Regions from separate parts of the Homo sapiens genome. Here regions 1, 3 and 4 are each linked to region 2. Evidence: fine-mapped expression QTL. A gene starts in region 2. Each other region holds a variant in brackets. All regions are shown on one strand. Distances are between the middles of the regions.

Region 1 (5,800 bases), 190 kb after region 2:
GAGAAATGGGACTTCATCAAGCTTACAGAAAGGATTTCTTAACCATTATCTTTGTTAATAAATATTTGTCTAAAAATGTTTATATGTGTGAAAACATTTTATTTGAGACTGGCTTTCTTCAAAAACCAAGTGGCAAGAATGTGGATGAGTAACTAACTGCTACCACCTCGAATGTGGGCGAGTAACTAACTGCTACCACCTCAAATTTTATTGATGAATTTAAAAAAAAAAGAAAAAAGCACTTTTTATACCAAGAAGATATAAGAGAACTGAATGGCCTGGAACACCTTGTAAGAACCCCACAATTCTGTGAATCAGTTTTCCCACACCAATGTGGAGCCATCTTTCCCAAAGCAAATCACCCGGTATAGCTTTCATGGTCACTTCAGCTTCCTTAGTATCTGTGGCCCAGGAATGGACATAGGAAAAAAATTAGAAGCTCTATTATACAATATCATTGTCACTAGTGGTAGCTACAGAATCCCTGCCACCACCACCATAAAGAAAGCCTTTGTTAACCTAAACCACTGAAAGAAACTTTTCTTTACAGTTGTAATCCAGAGGGAATTATAAACTGGGGTTACACAAATAACCATTCCCTTGCTCCCCGACCACTCAATTCAACCCCAGCACACAAGATAAAGATCTTTCCTGGAGCCTTATAATTTCAATACCTAGCTCTACGCAGGGCATCCCAGTGGTAAGCTACTTTTCTCCCCACTTTTCTCCTTTCTTCCTACTCCCTTGCAAAGCAATCCAAATGATATAGGTACTGATCCCTCTACTGGGAAACACAATCCAGACCATTCCCCCAGGCGGATGGATAAAGCTACTAACCATGATATTTATATTCAATACCTCTAGTTTACTCAAGTCCAGTGCTTAAGCAAGAACAACAATCAGATCTGAGAAGCTTTCTGAAAATACAAATTACTTACCTTCCACTATCAGAGATCCAGGTTACTTTTCTAGGTAAGCCCAGGCATGCATATTTGGAAAAAAACATGCTAGCACATATATAACTACATTTCAAAGCCACTGCTTAAGCCTCTAAACCACTTGGGTGAAACCCCAGTGTACTACATGGGTCACTATGCTTGCCTTGATACTCTTTCTCAAAATATTTGGTTTCCTATCCGGGGGACATGCAGCCTTAGATGTTCCCAGGTGTTTCTCTCATGTTCTTGGATGTCATATTCAAATGGTTCTTAAGAATAAGGACTGCCTCTCTGGCCCTCCTCTTTTTTTAGGTAGCCTAGTATAGACCAACCAGGACACTTTTAATCATATTTTTCTAGATCTTGGATTATACTGGTGCTATGGTCTAAGTGTGTCCCCTAAAATTCACATGTTAAAACTTAATCACCAATATGATAGTATTAAAAAGTATAGCCTTTAAAAGCTGATTAAATTAGGAGAGCACAGCCCTCATGAACAGGATGTGATCATAAAAGGACTGGAGGTAACCAGCTAGGCCCTTTTGCCCTTCTATCCCTTCCATCATGTGAAGACACAGCATTCAAGGTGGCATCTTGGAGCCAGATCCCTGGCCCTCACTAGACACCCAACTGCTGGTGCCTTGATCTTGGGCTTCCTAACCTCCAGATCTATATACCTATTGTTTGTAAATTACCCAGTTTCAGGTATTTTGTTATAACAGCATATACAGACTAACCAAGCCTGGGCTGCATGCAGAAGTTCTGCACCTCATCTGGGGAGTCAGAGAGCATATAGCTGAGAGGCAGTGTTACCTAATCTGATGGTGACAGAAAGAGATCAGTGAAAAGCAAGCAGGTCATGAACTAAGGGTTGCTTAGGGGCTCCTGTGGGAGGAAGAAATGGGATGTACTATTTGCGAAAAGCTTCTGGTTCTGCTTGGCACATATTACAGTGTAGTGGCAAACTCCAGAAATATCTTGAGCTGGGGACTCGATGTTCACTATGGCTTGTTATGCAGTCCTGAGACTTCCGGTGTGAGTGTGCTGGGTCAGAAGTCCAGAGACATGATAGAGAGGAAGTGGCTTGGCTGGGCACATACAATGGGTTTTTCTGGTACCATTAATGTCAATAAAGCAGACAAAGCTGCCACAATTTCTGTCCCCTTTAGAAATAATTCCTCTATCACTAGTTGTTCCAGAATCTATGGGAAATTTGATCAAATAAGACTGATTATCGAAACATCAAATATTATTGTGTTCATTTTTCAAATATCATTATTTCTCTACTTGATAGGAAATGAACTAAGCTTTTGGATTATTCATCCTGTCACCACATAAATGATTAATTTACAGAGCACAACAAACGTGATTCTGTGGACAAAGGACCTGGATTTTGATTATATTAGTTTCTATCTGACAAATATTGAACATCCAGGCTATGCCTGCCCTGCACTCTTTGGGGATAGGTGGGAAAGAGTTGACCTGTGTGTTCTCATAAGTCAGGTGATTCTAAAGTTGCCTCAAAATAAGTGAAACTTTAAATTTATGCCACAGGGTTTTATTTCCCAATAGTACCCATTAATTATCTGACTCAAACTCCTTAG[ACAGT/T]AGCAATAATTTAAAATTGCAAAATGTGAATTCTTCAAGGGAACACTGGAAAACAGATATAAGCCCTTGAAAAATACTTAGCTGGATTCACAACTCCAGAACAATATTTTGTTGTTCTTATTCATATCATTTTGGTAGGAGTGGGCAAACTGTCACCTTGGCCCCTTTTCTTCTTTTTGTACAGCATTAATTCATTTCCACATTTTGTTTATTCAACACATATTCATTGTGTTTTGCAATGTGCCAGGTACTGTGTAATTGAAGTGCTCATTTCCAGAGCACTCACAATGCTTTTCCTATGTCCACTAATTTTCACCTACACTTTCTTCTCTATCACAATCACCCGATTTTATTCTGTTTTCAATGTCCTGCTCAAATTCCATTTCTCTATGAAATGTTCAATGATGCCCCAAACAGAATAAATCTTACTCTATATCCATGAACTGTGCATTTTTATTTGAGTTTATCATATTCCAGATTTTCTCACTTTTTAACATATATTTTTCTGCTTGCAAATCTTGTGTACCTAAATGACAGGGATCCTATCTTGTTCTTTTCCTGTGTGACCTAGCAAAATATCTCGTGTCTAGTAGGTGTCTAGTAAATTCTTATTGAATTGTGTTAACATGGTGCCTCTGTAGAAAATGAAAAGGCAAATATATTTCTTTGTTTTCTTTCTAAGATCTTCTTCTACTCCTGTGCCTCCTTCTTCTGCTTCTTCTAAAAGGCAGTTGAGAACAGCAAAAGGTATTATGCAGCATTTAAAGATGCATAAAGATTGAGTTATAATGTCCACATTTTTTTATACTTGGCTTTGTTGCTTCATAATTTAGAGATCTTTCCATATCAGCACACACAGATATACCTCATTCTTTTGAAAAGGTACATAGTATTCCCTTAAAAGGGAGACTAAAATTTATTTTCAGTACCCAAAGGATGGACCTTTAGTTTGCTTTACAGTATTTTGTTATTTAAACATTGCCACAGTGAACATTATTGTATTTTATGTACTTTTGATGTTTTGTTTGTCAGTTACCTCCAGCTAAAGACCACCATGAACACAGATGCCATTGAAATAAATTTGGTTTAATTACTCACTGCAGTAATGGAGAAAGCACACCATAGGTAATTTTAGAGTGGGTTCAAGAAAGTGGGGATTAGCTTTAGATTGTGTGTGGTCAGCCAACAAGAGCACTTCTATCATTGGCTCTAAACTGAAAAAATAGAAAAAAAAAACAAACAACTCAAGAACCATGAGACACCTACAAAAGGTGCAGCTTACATGTAATGGTATACTTATATCAAAACACCAATATTGTATATCATAAATATATGCAATAAAATATTAAAACAAAAAAGAAAAAATATATTTCTTGTGGATACATTTGATTTCATAGTATTCTCTGCCAACAACAACAACAAAACTACATCTAGGCATATCATTTTCAAACTACAGGAAATCAAAAATAAAGGAAAACACTGAAGGAAGTCAGAGGGAGAAAACCCTTTTACCTACAGAAGAATAAAGATAAGAATGACATTTGACTTCTCTTCAGAAATTTCAAGCAACAGAAGAATGGAATAAAATATTGAAAGTGTTGGGAGAAAAAGAACACCAACCCTAGAACTCTGTATTTTGCAAAATTATCCTTCAAAAGTGAAGGAGAAATAAAGACTTTCTCAGACAAACAAAAGTTAAGGAAATTTGTTGCCAGTAGGCCTCCCTTGCAATAAAATTTTATAAAGTTCCATGGAGAGAATGAAAAGAAACTCAGATCTATATAAATAAAGAGCATAAGAGAAGGAATAAGTAAAGGTAAAATTAAAATTTTTATTTTCCTTAATCTAAGAGCTTATTCAAAATAATGATAGCAGCAATCTATTCAATTACATATATGCACAATCCATGAAAGAATTGGTAAGCTGAATTTTATTCAAATCAAAATGTTCTACTCTGCAAAAGATGCAGTCAAGAGAATAAAAGAGAAGTCGTAGACTGGGAGAAAATGTTGGCAAAGACATATCTGATAAAGGACTGTTATCCAAAATATGCAAGCAACTCTTAAAACTCAACAAAAAGAAAACAAACCACTGATTAAAAAATGGGCCCAAAATCTTATATTAAGCTGTTCTTGCATTACTATAAAGAAATACCTGAGACTGGGTAATCTATAAAGAAAAGAAGTTTAATTGGCTTATGTTTCTGCAGGCTGTTCAAACATGGTACCAACATTACTTGGCTTTTGGGAAGGCCTCAGGAAGGTTTTATTCACGGTTGAAGGTGAAGCTGGAGCAGGCACATTACATGGCAAAAGCAGGAGCAAGAGAGAGAAAGTTGGTGGGGGAGGTGACACCAACTTTTAAATGATCAGATTTTATGTGAACTTAGAGCAAGAGATATTAAGCATCACTAAGAAGATGGCACAAATCATTCATGAAGAATCTGCCCCCATGATCCCAACACCTCCCACTAGGTCCCACCTCCAACACTGGAGATTACATTTCAACATGAGATTTGCATGGGGACAAATATCCAAACTATATCAGTCTTCAACAAACACCTCACCAAAGAAGATATGCAGATGGCAGATCCAGGTGGCTTCATATAATATTCCATCAGGGAAATGCAAATTCCAATAGCAATGAGATATCACAACACACCTATTAGAATGGCCAAAATCCTGAATAATGGCCACAGCAAATGCTGCTCACGACATGGAGCAACAGGAACTCTTTCATTGCTGGTGAGAATGCTAAGTGATAAAATAATTTTGGAGGACAGTTTCGCATTTTCTTATAAAATTGAACCTGTTCATACTCTATGATCCAGTAATTACAGTCTTTGGTGTTTACAAAAAGAGTTAAAAATGTATGTCCACACAAAAACCTGCACACAAATGTTTATAGCAGTTTTATTGATAATTGCCAAAACTTGGGAGCAACCAAGACGGCCTTCAGTGGGTGAATGGAGGAATAAACTATGGAATATACAGAAAATGGAATAGTATTCAGAGGTAAGAAGAAATGAGCTATTAAGTCATAACAAGACATGGAGGAAGCTTAAATACATATTACTCTGTCAAAGAAGGCAATATGAATAGGCTGTATATTGTTTGATTCTAACTATATGATATTCTAGAAAATAAAAAACTGTGGAGATAGCGAAAAGATCAGTGATTGCCAGGAGTTTTGGGGAGAGATAAGTAGGCATAGAGCATAGAGAATTTTTAGAGCCATGAAACTGCTCTATATGA
Region 2 (5,447 bases):
GGGTGATTCAGGTGGAAACTAGCCTGGAACACCAGTTGCTCAGGAAACAGAGCCTGACCTGCCACAATATCCCATGTCTGCAAGAAAAGATGAGTGTCTTCCCAGGCACACACACCAGGGAGCCTGAATACCTCTGAAACCAGCCAGTCCCTGGACTGTGGACAGCAGCACCCTGAAAATTTCAAATTCATAGCTCCAACCTGTGTCTGTCTCCGAAGTTCTGTACTCACACATATTACACATCCCTTAGACCTCCCAAACGCCCTCCCATGCAGTTCTCCTGAGAACTCCCCAAAACCTCACTTCCAGTCCTCAGCCACTCAGGGCAATGCGTTTAGTTATTTTAAAGCCCTTAATACTTAATCCTATGCAGAAACTACTCTGACTTCCCAACACTTTGGCCTTCCGTTACCTTTCTCTGTCCCTTCCAAGGTCTCCTGGCGGCACAAACAGACAGGCGGCACCTCTGTGGCCTCTTCCACCCTGCACACCCTACTGGCTCAGGCGCCGACACGCCTCCCCAGGCGCACACTCGCGCGCGCACACACAGCGCACACGTACACTCATTCAGGACACACAGTCCGCGCCAGACCGAGAGCCCCCGCAGCTCGGTCTCAGCAGGCATCCCCTCGGGCTATATATAAAGCACTCGCCCCAAATAGACTTCCCCACGCACTCGCAAGTGCCCTGCCCCGCACCCTCTGCGCCGCCAGCGCCCTCTCCCTAGACACGCGGCCACCCCATTGACCCGCAGCCTCTGGCAGTTCTGTCAAAACTTTAAGCCTGGTTGATTTTACAACCACTAGTGTGTCAAAAGCTGGGGGAGGTCGGCTCGCCACAATTTCCACTTACCCCAGTTCATGCGGACTGGTGGCTGTCACTCTACTGACCCCAGTTCCATCGGTGCCAACGTGCGGCTGCGGCCCGCACAAACGCGCAAAAGACCGCGCGCTCTGCGCGCTGTGTCCACGCGCACAGCTCGACCTCCCCAGTCTCTCCAGTCGCGCTGCCGGGGATTCTTCCCCGCGCAACAGCAGCAGCCTCGGCAGTTCCTGCCGCAGCCAGGCAGATGATGGCAAACAGAAACACACTAGCAAAACTTTTATGACTTTAACAAAACTGTCTCCGGAGTAAACCCCTCCACGTACACTACTCGCGGGCCAGAGCAGACGCCAGAGTGTGATGGTTCGTCTGTCGCCCGCAACTCCCTGCCGCCCTCACCAACTTCCAGACACACACACACACACACACACACACACACACACACACACACACACACTAGATTGGGTTACAACAACCCACCAGCAGAAAACAACTTCTTCGCAAGGAGGAGGGGAGCACAGCCAAGTCATCCGGAATAAAAAATTATCCGTGTAAATATATAAGACAGATCCTCCCGTTTTCATAAACAACTAGAGTCCCAGGGTTCACCCTCAGGCCCCCTGGCACAACAGGAGGAAAATAAAGCCAGACTCCCGGAGCCCCACTCCAGTACCTCCGAGCTTCGCCTCTGATCAGAGAGCGCGGGTTCGCGTCTGCGCTGGGGCCAATGGTGCCGGGGCCTCCGGCCCGCGTGGCCCCAGCCCGGGGTCCCCGCCGCCGCCCGGGCTCAGCAGCAGCCGCCGCCGCCACCGCCACTGTAGCAGCTGCTGCTGCCGCTGCCGCCGCCGCCGCCGCTCCCTAGCCCTCCTCCTCTTCCCATGGCTGCGCCCTGCTTGGCAGCTCGCGGGCTGTCAGGCTTGGGGAGGAGAGAGGGGGCGGGGTGAAACGGGAAGGGAGGATGGGAGGGCAGGGGTGGGAAAAGGCGGCCACCGTTCACCAGGGGTCACGCCGCGCCTGGCCCGCAGTCCCCCAGATCCAGGTTGCAGAAGCGAAGGCGAAGCGGACGTTCAAGGAGGCCAGTTCGAGAACTGCTGCGGAGAGGCCGAGTGCCGCCCGGGCCAAGCATTCCGAGTTGCTGGGATGAAGTCTTCCCGGCGAGGAGCTGGAGTTGGTGCGTGTCACTCTCAACTGAGCTGCGCGGCTCCTCCTAGAGGAAAATATTGGTAGTTGCAATACACTTCCTTCCTCTCCGCCTGCCCGTTCCAAATGAAAGCAGGACCTACAAGAGCGTTAAGTGCAGTCCACAGACTCAAAGAAACACTTACAAAAAGGTTAGCTATCTCCAGGAATGAGAGGAAGATCAGCGAGATACCTTGGAAAGCGTGTTTAGCCATCCAAATATTGCCTTTCCATCAACAATCAAGTTCCAAACTCCTGCTCACTGGGGCACAGTGAAAAGATAGTTAAAACTACGAAGGACTTTATTGTGGAGGTTAGAAGACGGAGACAGAGAGAATGAGTAATTTACCAAGGACACTCAGCATGTTAGCAGAGAGGTATCTGCTAGAGGACAGGGATGCAGGGAGAGCAGACACAGGCCCCAGCCTGAAGTTCCTGAGCCAGGAAAAGGGTTTTAACTCTGCCTCACGCTGGACATAGCTCATCTGTCAAATGCGAGCCCTGCCTACTTCATTCACAAGAAGTTGTAAAAGTGTTGCAGAAAGTTAAAGTTGTGCATAAGCATGTCATTTTTGTACAGCATCAAACCCCAAGTCACTATATGCTTTTCTGAGTAGAGAGTACAAAAATCTAGCTCCAGGTTGTCTCAGATCTGAAGGAGTAGCTAGTCATGCAATCTTTCCACTATTTACTGACGGTCAATTGTAATGTCACTTACTTATAAGCTTCTAACAGCTTTGGCTTACTAAAGACTTTTTTTTTTTAACAGAGCTCCCAGACACAAACCCAAGTTTATACCCAGAAAGAAATGTTTAAACAACTTAAAGGAACCAAGTTTCTTTTCTTTAGAATAAAATATCTATAGGGCTTTGAAGTAGTACACGGGAGCCAAGACTTGAGAAGGAACAGAGGACCAAAGACTCTGGGATAGCAGATATCACATAAGATACCCCTATTTTCAAAGGAATCAGATAAGTGAAAAACTGTTCCTTAGAATGCTTTCAGAAGCTCAGCTGTGGCTCAAATACCCCAGCTGTTCCAGACAGACACCTAGAATGAACGAAAAAGGAAAGATTCTGGAAGGGGCGTGTTTTATCATGGGGTGGGATGGTTATTGATCCTGAACTGCTCTTGTTCTATGGCATCTAAAAATAAGGAGGCATTTAGTTCCCCTAAGACTCTTCCCCAAACCATTGATTTCTGGGGCTTCATACTTTGCTGGAGCAATAGTGGTGCTTGGCTGTGTCTGGAGCTTTTAAAAGGGGAGGTACCCATATAGAGAAACTTGGGAAAGTAAAAGATTAGGGCACAGTCAAGAAAAACTCCTGCTGGGTGGTCCATACCTGCCAAGCTGGCTGACAGGGTAGTCCTGGCAGGAGTAGAGACCAGACAGGCCTCAAATGCTGACTCCACGCCTGTCTGAAATGACCTTCCAAGTTGGACCTTCTTCAGAGCCTGGCACTACCAACCTCTCTGTTTATATCCTCTCTGTGCCTTCTCATCCTTTGCCCTTCTTCCCTGAGCTAGAGAATCTTGATCTAGTTTAGGAGGTGCCAGACGGAGTCATAAAAGATATTCTAAATTCTATTGTTTATGCTCTGAGATGAGCTCAGGGCCATACTTAAAAAAATAAGAATTGACTTCTTTTTTTTTTTAAATCTGGGTTCAGCAATATCCTCCATTCTGTGTGCCATGAAACTAGACTACTCTGGCTGCTGCTCTGTCTTTGATTTTTAAAAAGTCATCATGCACAGAAAACATAGGAAAAGACACCTCAGTTAATACTATAGAACTAGATATAAACCTGCAACTGACATGAAGGGCAGTCTTTATTTTTAAGCCTCGTAAGTAAAGGTCCTTCAATCTCATATATGACCAGGTATTGGTCCATAGTAGTATGTGCCTCTTTATATATTCCAAATTGTGAGGGAAAATGTAGCAGGTATTGAGTTGATTAATTTGTTATAAGTTAAGGCATGCCAGAGCACATTTACCTTCTGAAGAATGAAACTGCATTTGCTCATGGTTTCCACTCTGCTTGGAAGATCCTACTTTGTCCACCCAGAGAAATCCTTCTTAATCTTAAAGTTCCAATCAATTGTTTACTTTCTCTCTGAAGGTCTTCCTGACTATTCCCCAGGGTGGAATTAATTAATTCTCCCTGTATCAGCACCTTTATAGGCCTTTATATCTTCTTTTATTAAATATTGCAGTTTTGTTGACATGTCTGCTTTTCTCATTAATTAAGAGATTTCTGAGGGAGAAACTATATATTCTTAATATCTGTACCTGCAATGTCTAGGTTAGTGCCCAGTATTTACAGAGTTTATAAAGCGTCCAATAAATAATCAAATTGAATGAAAAGTTGTATCTCTTGGATTTATATCTCTAACCCAGATCTCTCCACAGAGCTCCAGGCTAACAACTGGGTATCTCCATTTGGATGTCTAACAGACCTCTGAAACTTGACATGTCCACATCTGAACTCTGGTTCTTTCTCCTTAAACATACTCCAATCACAGTGGGTGACATTTCCATCTCAGTAGATGGCAACTACTTCCTGCCAGTTACCCAGGCCACAAACCTTTGAAATCATCCTTACTTCTTCTCTGCCAATCACATTCCACATTCAAAACTCTGTCTATTTTCTTGGAGAGGTCCAGAGACACCTGGTCTGAACCACCAGAATTTCTCAGATTACTGCAGTAGTCTCTCAACTCAACTGGTCTGCTTGCTTTGACAAACCCCACCCCTAATCCCCAACCAACACCAACAACAACCCAAAGTATAAATTCAGTTGCCATAGTCATTCCTTTTAAAATTAATATCATGTCATTCCTCAGCTCAAAACCCTCCAATGGTTCCCCATTCAAATCAGAATAAAATTCAAAATGGCCCATGAGACCCTACGTGAGCTATGTACCTTTGCCCCACACCTCATCTCCCATGAATTTCCCCATCACTGGGTCATCCATTCTGCTCCCAGCACACCGGCCTCCCTGCTGTTTCTTAAGCAGGCCAGGCAGACTCCTAACTTGAAGGCTTTTTGCTGGCTTTTCTCTCTGATTTAAACACACTTCCACAAATATTCATTTGCTTCCTCCTACAGTTCCTTGAAGTCTTTACTCAGATATTGGCTAACTTATCTTGTCCAACCTATTTTACCTTATTATGGCCTTACCTTATTATGGCCCACCCTTCCCCAGTCTTTTATACATCCCCAGTAGGGCTTAGCAAAAAATATAAACTGCCTTGAAGACAATAGAAACAATTAGAAAATAATTCTGATTATATATATTCAAGTGCAGATATCTAGGTCAGATCGCCATCTCCCCAAACCATAAAACACCACAGTATAAACTTCCTAAATCTACAGTTATCTGAGGTTAGAGCATGGCTTTAGTCACTCTGTTGTACTATAAAATGCCAAAGCTTCTTCTCAAAAC
Region 3 (5,800 bases), 370 kb before region 2:
TTAAATATCCATTTATCTTTTGTATATCTAAGACTCATCCTGATTTTTACTATCACACATGAATAAAGCCTTTGTATCTTTCTTTCTCTAATGTTGTATCATACTCTTCTAAAACTTGAGTGGCTGTCTTAAAAGATATAAGGGGAAAGATAATATTGTCTGTCTCTATATTGCTTAGTAAGTATTTCCATAGTCAATGATGGTTTAATAGGTAAACCAAACCCTATAAACCTGACCTCCTTTATGGTTAATACTATTAAGCAAGAATGCAGTACAGAATTGGATACAGTACGGATTTGTCCAAATAAATTCAATAAAAACCTTAAAGCTGACTTCGTTTGTTATGTAGGCTGTATGCATATATTGAAAACAGAAGTGAAACTTTCGATTGCTTTTAAATAAATACCAACTAATGAATTTACTGCTAAGCTCAAAACCGTCTACGCTTAAGGTGAGAATCTTTGCCAACAGAAAGGCGTTGCTCTAAATCGCGAATGGTATTACGAAGAATTGCAATCTCCTTGTTTTTTTCTTCTTGAAAATGCTGAAGTTTCTAAACGAAACAAAAAATTTGTTATTAGAATTCAGAAATAAAATTTAGTACAAGGAACAACAAAATAACAAAGAAATGCACTTCTGCTATTGGTATTTTAAAAAATACCTTATATTGTTAATAAGAATTAGATGATTTTTATAGAAACATGCTTAGAAAGTTTTCTTAAGCAACAAATACTGAGAGGAAAACTCACATACCCTTCTGTAGATACTTTGTGGCAAAACAGTAGAATCCTGATATGATTTTGATTTAGTCTGAACTCTTGCTAGTTTGGCATCAAACTGAATCAAATTGAAAAGAAAGTTATTGAAACTCTAGACAATTAGAAACAATTGTTTCTATAATTATAATCCATGTTATCCTTTGACATGTAATCTGTAATTCAGGTGTAAATTACAGTATAGACAATAGAAAAATCTTTCTTTAAGAAATAATTTTTCAGAAAGAGCAAAGAACAGAAAAACAAGATTAACCCTGATTGCACGGCAAAATTACCTGGAGAGGTTTTTTTTTTCTTTGTTTCTAAAGTACCAAATGCCTGGGCACTACTTTAGAGATTCTGGTGTGCAGCTAGCGTCATCTTTTTCTCAAAACATCACGTGATTCTATAGTGCAGACAGGGTTTAGAATCTAGTTTAACTTAAATATAGGTAAAAATATTTTTACGTTAAAATGAGTGTATTATAAAGAAAATGTAATAAACAGTCAAGGAAGAAAACCTCACCTAGCTTTCTGCAGGAACTTTGAGGCTGAACAGTAGAATTTGAATACGATCTTGTCGATATAGTTTGAACCCTTGCTGGTTTCAATTAAACTGAATCAGGTTAAAAAAGTTCTCATAGGCCATTCTTAACAGGCCAATTTTTTTTTGTTTTTGCACAATATTCCATTATATAACTCTTCTCTTCAGATTTAGTTAACATAGCCTCTCTGAGGACTAAGAATAAACTCTGAGATTATGCTCTGGTTTGAGGAGAGAAATGGTTAGGTACAATGAAAACAAATAAGGAGCTGTGTATACCAGTCAAATAATAGACCAGTGATAAGGCCCAAATGGCAAACAAAATGCAAATTTCCAAACAGAGGAGGATTAGAAGTTGGTAGTAGATCTTGAAACATGGCCTATTAATTTCAGTTGGCCATTCAGCCTTTCCTGTGGTTTGTGGTACACTTGGTCAGATGGCAGCAGCAGCAGCAGCACCAGCAGCAAAGGGTATCTAAAGTCAACATCAGTCCTCTTTCTGCCCAGTGATTACTCAAGGTAACTCACCAAGTACCCTGGGGATTCCAAAGTTTCAGGAATATGAGTAGTATGTGATTTTAATTAAGACTTGTGAATTCTTACAAGGTAAAATGAAAGTTGGGGTGGGGGGAAGCAACGGAAGAATGATGGAAGGGTAGATTGATAGAGTCTAGAAAACATTTAAAGGACAAATATTTTGTCAAAGTACATTTGAGATTGTGATATCCGGTTAAATGAACTACTCAAGACTGTTTGTTTATTTATTTATTTTTTTCGTTCTGTTGCCCAGGCTGGAGTGCAGTGGCACAATCTCGGCTCACTGCTAAGTCTGCCTCCCGGGTTCAAGTGATTCTCCTGCCTCAGCCTCCTGAGTAGCTGGATAACAGGCATCTGCCATCACGCCCAGTTAATTTTTGTAATTTTTTTTTAGTACAGGCGGGTTTCACCACGTTGGCCTGGTTGGTCTCGAACTCCTGACCTTAGGTGATCCGCTCGCCTCGGCCTGCCAAAGTGCTGGGATTATAGGTGTGAGCCACCACACCCGGCCTACTCAAGACTTTTGAGCAAAGAGTTAGAGCCTCAGCCTTTGAGATGCCCTATTAGAAGTCCCTTAAAAAAAAAATTGTAGGAATTTGGTTTGTTTGCCCCCAGGATATATATTCTTCCAGAAAGTTATTAGGAAGAAATTTGTTTTTTTAATGAGAAATAAAGCAAAATAAATTTCTAGTTGGTTACTGGGTTTTGACAAATTTCGGCTGGGATGAGAATAAATGTGAAGCGTTAGAAACATTCTTCCCATGCTGGAATGGTAGAAATTATGAAACCTACATAGAATTTACCATAAAATGCAGATAATCCTTGAGTTTTCTGTCAGGGAAATGTGAGTGCTAAAAATACAATAGCTAAAATAAAGTTTCACTGTATTGGTTTAATAGCCAATTAGATACACTAAAGATAGAATTAGTAAGTTGGAGAATAGGTTAGAAGAAAATATCTACCCTGAGACAGGGAAAAACAAGAAAATGACATATACAGAAAAGAGCATATGAGACACAGGAACTGGTAGTAAAGTCTATGAAAGGCTGTTGTCTCTCACCTAGTGTTGGGCCTAAAGTTGCTGCAGTCAGAAAGGCCTGCAGTTAAAAGGAAAAGTTGGATGTCAAGTGGGAAATACTGAGAAGAAAAGTTCTCAGAGGAAGCAATATCCTCCCTAAAAACCAGGAACTTTCGAACAACTCAAGGGTCCACTTTCAGGTCAAGTGCTGAAAGGCAATGCAGATGACAGTTGTATGGTATGTGATTACTGCAATCATTTGGTGGAGAATGAGCATGTGTGAAGCCCTCTCACAGAATTGCTTCTAATCCTAAAATGTATCTCACTGTGATGAAAAACAATCAAAGTACAGTTTAGACTAAGGGATGTGTCCTCAAGTTTAGCAGACTCTTAAACACTTACTTCTAGTTGTAGCTTGATTATTTCATTTTGTTTTTCTTTTTCTTGACTTCTTAGCTTTGCATTTAACTCTGAAATTTCCATCTCCTTTTTCTCTATTAGTTCTTTGTGCTTTTCTTCATTTAATTCAACTGAATAAAATGAAATAAATAAAATTCATTTGTTAAAAATTTCAAAATTATTAT[AAG/G]TTTGTATTTCTTTAGTGTTTTAAATCATTCCTAAAAAAGTAAATTTTATTAATGAAACATATTTTAGAAATGGTGTAGGTATAGAATAGCTTTTCTATGTTTTTTACAAGACCCTGAATAATGTTTGAGACACAGAAGTCACTTGCCAAATATTTTTGAATGAATAAGGTAATTTAAACTATTAAACATCAAAGGCCTGGAAAATAAATGGGAGATACAGTGGTTGAAGAGGGACACAAAGCCTGAGTTTCTAGGTATGAAGGGCTCAAACTACTGGATGACTCTAGAGCTACATGAAGCCCCTGCTATACTATTCCATATGATCAGGCCATTCTCATGTTCACATCATATCTTTATGCTTTATCAAATTTCTTCTTCTCCCAACTTTCTTATTCCTGTTAATGACACCATGACATCTAGGATGAGAGGCTCAAGAAAATCTTTTATTTTTAACGAGAAAGGAGACAATCTACAAGCCCCACAATGAAGGGCTTCCTAGCTTTCTTTTTTTTTTTTTTAATTTTATTATTATTATACTTTAAGTTTTAGGGTACATGTGCACCATGTGCAGGTTAGTTACATATGTATACATGTGCCATGCTGGTGTGCTGCACCCATTAACTCGTCATTTAGCATTAGGTATATCTGCTAATGCTATCCCTCCCCCATCTCCCCCACCCCACAACAGTCCCCAGAGTGTGATGTTCCCCTTCCTGTGTCCATGTGTTCTCATTGTTCAATTCCCACCTATGAGTGAGAACATGTGGTGTTTGGTTTTTTGTCCTTGCGATAGTTTACTGAGAATGATGATTTCCAATTTCATCCATGTCCCTACAAAGGACATGAACTCATCATTTTTTATGGCTGCATAGTATTCCATGGTGTATATGTGCCACATTTTCTTAATCCAGTCTATCATTGTTGGACATTTGGGTTGGTTCCAAGTCTTTGCTATTGTGAATAGTGCCGCAATAAACATACGCGTGCATGTGTCTTTATAGCAGCATGATTTATAGTCCTTTGGGTATATACCCAGTAATGGGATGGCTGGGTCAAATGGTATTCTGATATAGATATTTAGATAATAAATTTGTAGATCCTACTCTGTATGATTTAAACCTTTGAAATAGGTTGAAATTTACTTTTTCATTTATGATATGGTCAACTTTCTTAAATGTTCCATGCATACTTGAAAATAATACGTATTCCGCATTTATTGGGTATATCATTTATGTCAATTAGTATCAGTTGTTTATTTTGTTGCTTAAATTTTCTATATCATTACTAATTTTGCATATTTGTATGTACTTTTCTACCACTAAAAGGTGAATTAAAGTCTCTCATTATGATTGTGGATTTGTCTGTCACCTACTAGTTCTGCGAATTTTACTTGGTACATATACATTTAGAATTGTTGTTTTATTTCCCTGGTAAATCAAACACTTTACATCACAAAATATCCATCTTTTGCTCTAGAACTGCTTCTTGCTTTAAAGTATACTTTGTCCAATATTAGTATAGCTATGCCAGCTTCATGTTGGCTACTATTTGCATGTTATATTCTTTTCCATCTTTTATTTTAAATCTTTCTATAGTTTTGTATTTTAGGTATATTGAAAGCAGGATAGTAGCAGATTTTAATACTTATTCAATCTGGCAATCTTTTTTAATTGGAAATTCATTCAAGTTTAACTTAATGCATTTAGTAATATATTTGGGTTTAAATCAACTAGCTTATTATTTGTTGGCTTTTACATTTTATGTTCATTTCTCTCTTTTTTCTCATCTTCATTTAGACAGAATAACTATTTTTACTTCCCTTTTTTCCTCCTCTATTAGATTGATAATCATTAGCTTGATAAATATTCTTTTATTCTTCCTTTAGTGGTTATCTTAGAGTTTATGGCATGCCTACTTGACTTATTAGAATTTAATAAAATTAGTACTTTTATCACTTTATGGACATGATACAAACCTTAAAAACATTTTAACTCCATTTATTCCCCCTTTTGTCTTTGGTGTTTTTGTACTATGTTAACTTAGCTAAATTAGAACTATGTTTTCCAGAATTCCCTTGTCTATATGTTCTAAGGTAGAGTTAGCCGTAAGAGAAATCTCCACAAGGTTTGGAAGATGGAAGTATAGCAAGAACTAATTTTCTCTGATGTTTAGTATAGGATGCTGGGCAGTGTTTCAGTTCACACATGGTGTTGCTGGCCTTCTGGCTCACCAAATCAGCAGCTATTATTTTTTGAAGGTCAATGTAGAGCCCCAGGGAACAGTGCAATTTATACAAGTTGTCACTTATCAAAGGATCATCTCAGTAATAAGGAAAAACGTTTGGTTCCACAGCTTCTTAA
Region 4 (4,000 bases), 290 kb before region 2:
GGGTTGGATAATGAATTGTGGACTCAGAAAATTTCAAAGGCATGTAGGACCTGACGCCACTTTACAGCCCTACAGTTCTAGGAAAAATCTCGTTCTTTGCAGTATCAATTTAATTGTTGGAACTACATGTTCTGTCCATACTTGCTGACAAATATTTGCTACTATTTCCCACTTTCAGTAGAACATGCAAATTTAGACAATGATAAGCGTTTTTAATGGGCAAATAAAAAATAAAGTTAATTCTTTCCTACAGAAAATTCAATTTAGTGCAGGAAATTTGGGAGAACAATAAAGATTTCAAATCAATTGTAGAATTTGGTGATTTTGACTAAACATTATAGTTAAGCATTTCATTATTTATAAAAAGCACTGTATTAGAAGTAATATGTTTTCTTGGAAATCCTACTTTTTGAGAGGATAATTTTTTCTTCCTAATATTGTTAACTAATATAACTAAACAACATAACAAATTGACTTGGCCTTCACAATGGCTAGAAATTCACAGCTAATACTAAGAGCTAATTACTTTACATACCTCGTGAGTTTATCTACTGAAGTTATGTATAAATTTTCCCACCAAATATATAGATTAATAAACTGAAATTAATCAACAGAATAATTTGGCTTTTTTGTTGTTGGCATTACTTAAATACACAAATTAAAATTCTAAAAATATATTTATTTATTTTCCTGAAACAATAGAAAATTGTGTTGTGATTTATGATAGCTGCTTTTTTGGAAAACAGGAATGTTGCCAGAAAGTTAGGTGCAAAATGGAATTCAGAATGAATTTTACTTTCCAATTGGTTTATATTATAAAATTGGACATGAAGCTCTACTGAAAATAACCCTTTCTGCATTCAGTTAGACTTTTAGCATGCTTGACACTATAGAAATCTAGCGTCCCAATAATTCTTCTTCCTAACAAAATTCTGTTTTGAAGTTTACAAGTGCTATACTACCTTACAAAACAAAGTAAAATCTTTTAAAATATATTAACATAGATCTCATTTTGATTTATAGATGCCTCTTGGCTTCAGCTGGAGAACGTATTTTCAATTCTAGGTAAGGGGATCAACTGTCTTGGTTACCTGGAACTGAGGGATTTCCTGGCACACCGGACTTGCATTGCTAAAAACCAGGAGAGTTCTAGGCAACCTGGGAGTGTTAGTCACCTTAATTCTAGGAGAAGCAACAAGATTAACCATTGGGACTTTAAAAATACCTTAAATGGGGCCAGGCGCGGTAGCTCACGCCTGTAATCCCAGCGCTTTGGGAGGCTGAGGTGGGCAGATCACCTGAGGTCAGGAGTTCGAGACCAGTCTGACCAACATGGTGAAACTGTATCTAAAAATACAAAATTAGCTGGGCTTGGTGGCGCATGCCTGTAATCCCAGCTACTCTGGAGGCTGAGGCAGGAGAATTGCTTGAACCTGGGGGGCGGCGGTTGCAGTGAGCCAAGATTGCGCCATTGCACTCCAGCCTGGGCAACAGAGTAAGACTCCGTCTCAAGGAAAAAAAAAAATTGTCTGTATATAAGGACTGTATCAGACTCAGCCAAAGGCTCAGTGATACTTTGAAGTCCTGGAATGAATGGGTCAACTTGTTGAGGACTTGAGGGAAAGAGCTAGCTCTTGGATAAAGAGGTACATATCACAAGGTATGCATAGTCACCAGCCTAAGCCTCTTAATGTCCTGTACAAGTCTCCAGATAGAATCTAAACCTCTAAATTGTCTAAGATAAATACAACAAATTGAGTTTTATATGAATGGTAAATATATAACTGGAGATAAAAGTGTACTAGGTTAACTAAAATTTCCACTCATAATTTGACAAAGAAAATATCAAATAACAAATAGAAACACATATGGAAATCTAAACAACTGGTACAAAATACCAAAGAATACTACTCCACACCTACCTTTGCTGTTTAGAAAATAAGAATACAAATAGCATCACTGTTAGCCCAAATATTCCAAAGATAATAATTAAGAGCCATGGAAAGTAGAAATCTGAAACACACAAGAATATTTCGCTTTCAGAATTACGAATAGTTGAAGCACAGTTTA[CA/A]TTTCCCTTTCCCTTTTCACAAAAAATTCATAATTTGTATTCATCTAATAAAGTCAGTGATTTCTCTTGATAACCACTGAAACAGAATGCAACGACTTAGTTTTTTTCTGTTTTATGAACATCTCTGTCCACTTTTCAAATCTCCTCACATTAAAAAAAAACTTCAAAATAAAGAAACAGCATATAGTTCAAAATCAATGTGTGTTTTATGAAAACAAACAATCTGCTTTAAGCATACTATGTGTCCAGGGAGTATCATAAAGGTTTCAGCTTCAGTAAAAAAGTGTTGCTTATTAACACACTACCTAAATAATGCCCACTCGGTTTCTTTTCTATTTTTTTTTAAGTGTGGTGATTTTCTTAGTTTCCAGATTGAAGATTTATCAAAAAGATGAAGGCAGAGTTTTTATTGATAAATCATGACAGAAACTTCTTAGACACAAATAACATATATTTTACAGCTATAAATATACGTATTTATATCAATAAATTAAATTATTAAAATATAATAAATATATCTCATGTATATTATATACATAAAATTGACAGAAAGATCACTACTGAGGCTCCCATCTTCAGGTTTTAGTATACTTTGTATGAGACTTGGGGGAACCTGTTTGTAAAACTTCTATTTCATTCCTTAAGATTGAGTACCTGCCAGCTACTTTGCAGTTGGTACCCAGTATTCTTACCACAGAGGCAGAGGCTAACCACTTTTTTATAAAAATGACAGATGAAATTTACCTTAACATTGCCATTTAAAATGTAGGTCTTTATGCTGAAATAGTCTTTTCTTATTTAAAAAGTTATTAAAATCCCCTAGGGAGATATTATAAGCATTTTAAAGAATTGGTGGGGGAGAAAAAATCATTTTTTGTCTTGTAGTGTCTATAATTTCATATCAATGACATATTCAGGAAAATAACATAAAGTTAGAGCTTCTTTTTTGTTAGTAACAGAAGGAAAAGGCAGTTTAAAAAATATATGTTAAGTGAATTAAATGCCACTACACTAAGCTTAAGGGTGTATAGCTATTGTACTTTTAAGGCCAGAATTGCATAATATCAAATAGTTTGGAAACAAGAATTCAGTTAACTAGAGTATAGAGAAAATGGTGCTATAGAAATTTTCATCCTAATGCTATTTAGTATCATGAGATTCTACCTGTATAGTAAATACAGAAATATAAATTTATTTTCTATGTAGCTTGTGGTTGTTTCATTAACAAACATATAGCCCTGTAAACTTCTGTTTTCAATGAAGATGGAATAGAGCCATTTCCCATTTGAGAATAATAATACTCTATACTTTCTGCTCATCATTAATCAGTTTTCTTTATTTCTGTATCTAAAAGTTTTAATTCTTTTATTCTAAATTCATAGGTCCCATTTTTAAAAACTTTAATCATTGTTGTGATTCTCCTACATAGGGTTTTCAAATGTTCCACGTCTCCTTTAAGTATGACTGCCACACTACTTATTAGGCATTCCTCTAGGTAAAAGCCACACCTCCGCTTTCTAAAACCGTATGCACCTGCTGTTGACTACCTATGCTGACTCAATATTGGGTTTCCTCTTAGATGTCACATATCTATCCATCCATATAGATACATACTTTCTTCCCTAACCATCAGTACAGCTTTTTTTCCTGATTATAAATTCAAAACAAACTTACTATAGAAAATTTCAGAAATATAAAAATATATAAAGAAAAGAATCATCTGAATTCTACCATCCGGAGATTGCCACCAAATTCCTGTCTCTAAACTTCCACCTGCCCCCCGGACTTCTCCTGAATGAAAAATTTGGAAACTAAATCTTCCTTCTGCTTTTGCAATGAACAATATCTGTTACAGATAGTGAGCTCAAGGTCTCTCATCCTGATATCTGATGTTAATATATTTTGATTTGGACAACACACTACCAGTGC

Alleles and levels. Alleles are on the strand shown, and positions count from the first base shown. SD is a standard deviation of normalised expression in the study named. Not every link is listed here.
For the expression in fibroblasts of the gene that starts at base 2,012 in region 2, allele T in region 1 goes with a lower level than allele ACAGT (small effect, 0.32 SD a copy in GTEx).
For the expression in anterior cingulate cortex of the gene that starts at base 2,012 in region 2, allele A in region 4 goes with a lower level than allele CA (small effect, 0.38 SD a copy in GTEx).

What was found. PIP is the estimated chance that this variant, and not a neighbour inherited with it, causes the effect. A credible set is the group of variants that fine-mapping cannot tell apart.
Region 1: its variant is the best candidate, but not a certain one, in a credible set for the expression of GHR in fibroblasts (GTEx, PIP 0.53).
Region 3: its variant is the best candidate, but not a certain one, in a credible set for the expression of GHR in lung (TOPMed, PIP 0.85).
Region 4: its variant is the best candidate, but not a certain one, in a credible set for the expression of GHR in anterior cingulate cortex (GTEx, PIP 0.83).

The regions. Positions count from the first base shown.
Region 1 is chr5:42,232,166-42,237,965 of GRCh38, reverse strand. No RefSeq gene overlaps it. Among named protein-coding and RNA genes, the nearest start is that of LINC02996, 60 kb to the right of the region's middle. The variant ACAGT/T (reference allele first, on the strand shown) is at 2,543.
Region 2 is chr5:42,420,004-42,425,450 of GRCh38, reverse strand. GHR (growth hormone receptor) reads right to left here and starts at 2,012. Exons shown (of 10, transcript NM_000163.5): 1 at 1,496-2,012. RefSeq lists promoters at 390-807, 972-1,319, 972-1,740, 1,938-2,038, 1,648-2,220 and 1 more, cis regulatory regions at 1,843-1,883, 2,221-2,729 and an enhancer at 1,867-2,016.
Region 3 is chr5:42,794,412-42,800,211 of GRCh38, reverse strand. It overlaps CCDC152 (coiled-coil domain containing 152), which reads right to left. Exons shown (of 9, transcript NM_001134848.2): 7 at 3,256-3,383; 8 at 754-837; 9 at 1-553. The coding sequence ends at 431. It overlaps SELENOP (selenoprotein P), which reads left to right. Exons shown (of 5, transcript NM_005410.4): 5 at 1-332. Among named protein-coding and RNA genes, the nearest start is that of SELENOP, 15 kb to the left of the region's middle. The variant AAG/G (reference allele first, on the strand shown) is at 3,438.
Region 4 is chr5:42,711,442-42,715,441 of GRCh38, reverse strand. GHR (growth hormone receptor) reads right to left here. Exons shown (of 10, transcript NM_000163.5): 8 at 1,923-2,013. Among named protein-coding and RNA genes, the nearest start is that of CCDC152, 43 kb to the left of the region's middle. The variant CA/A (reference allele first, on the strand shown) is at 2,071.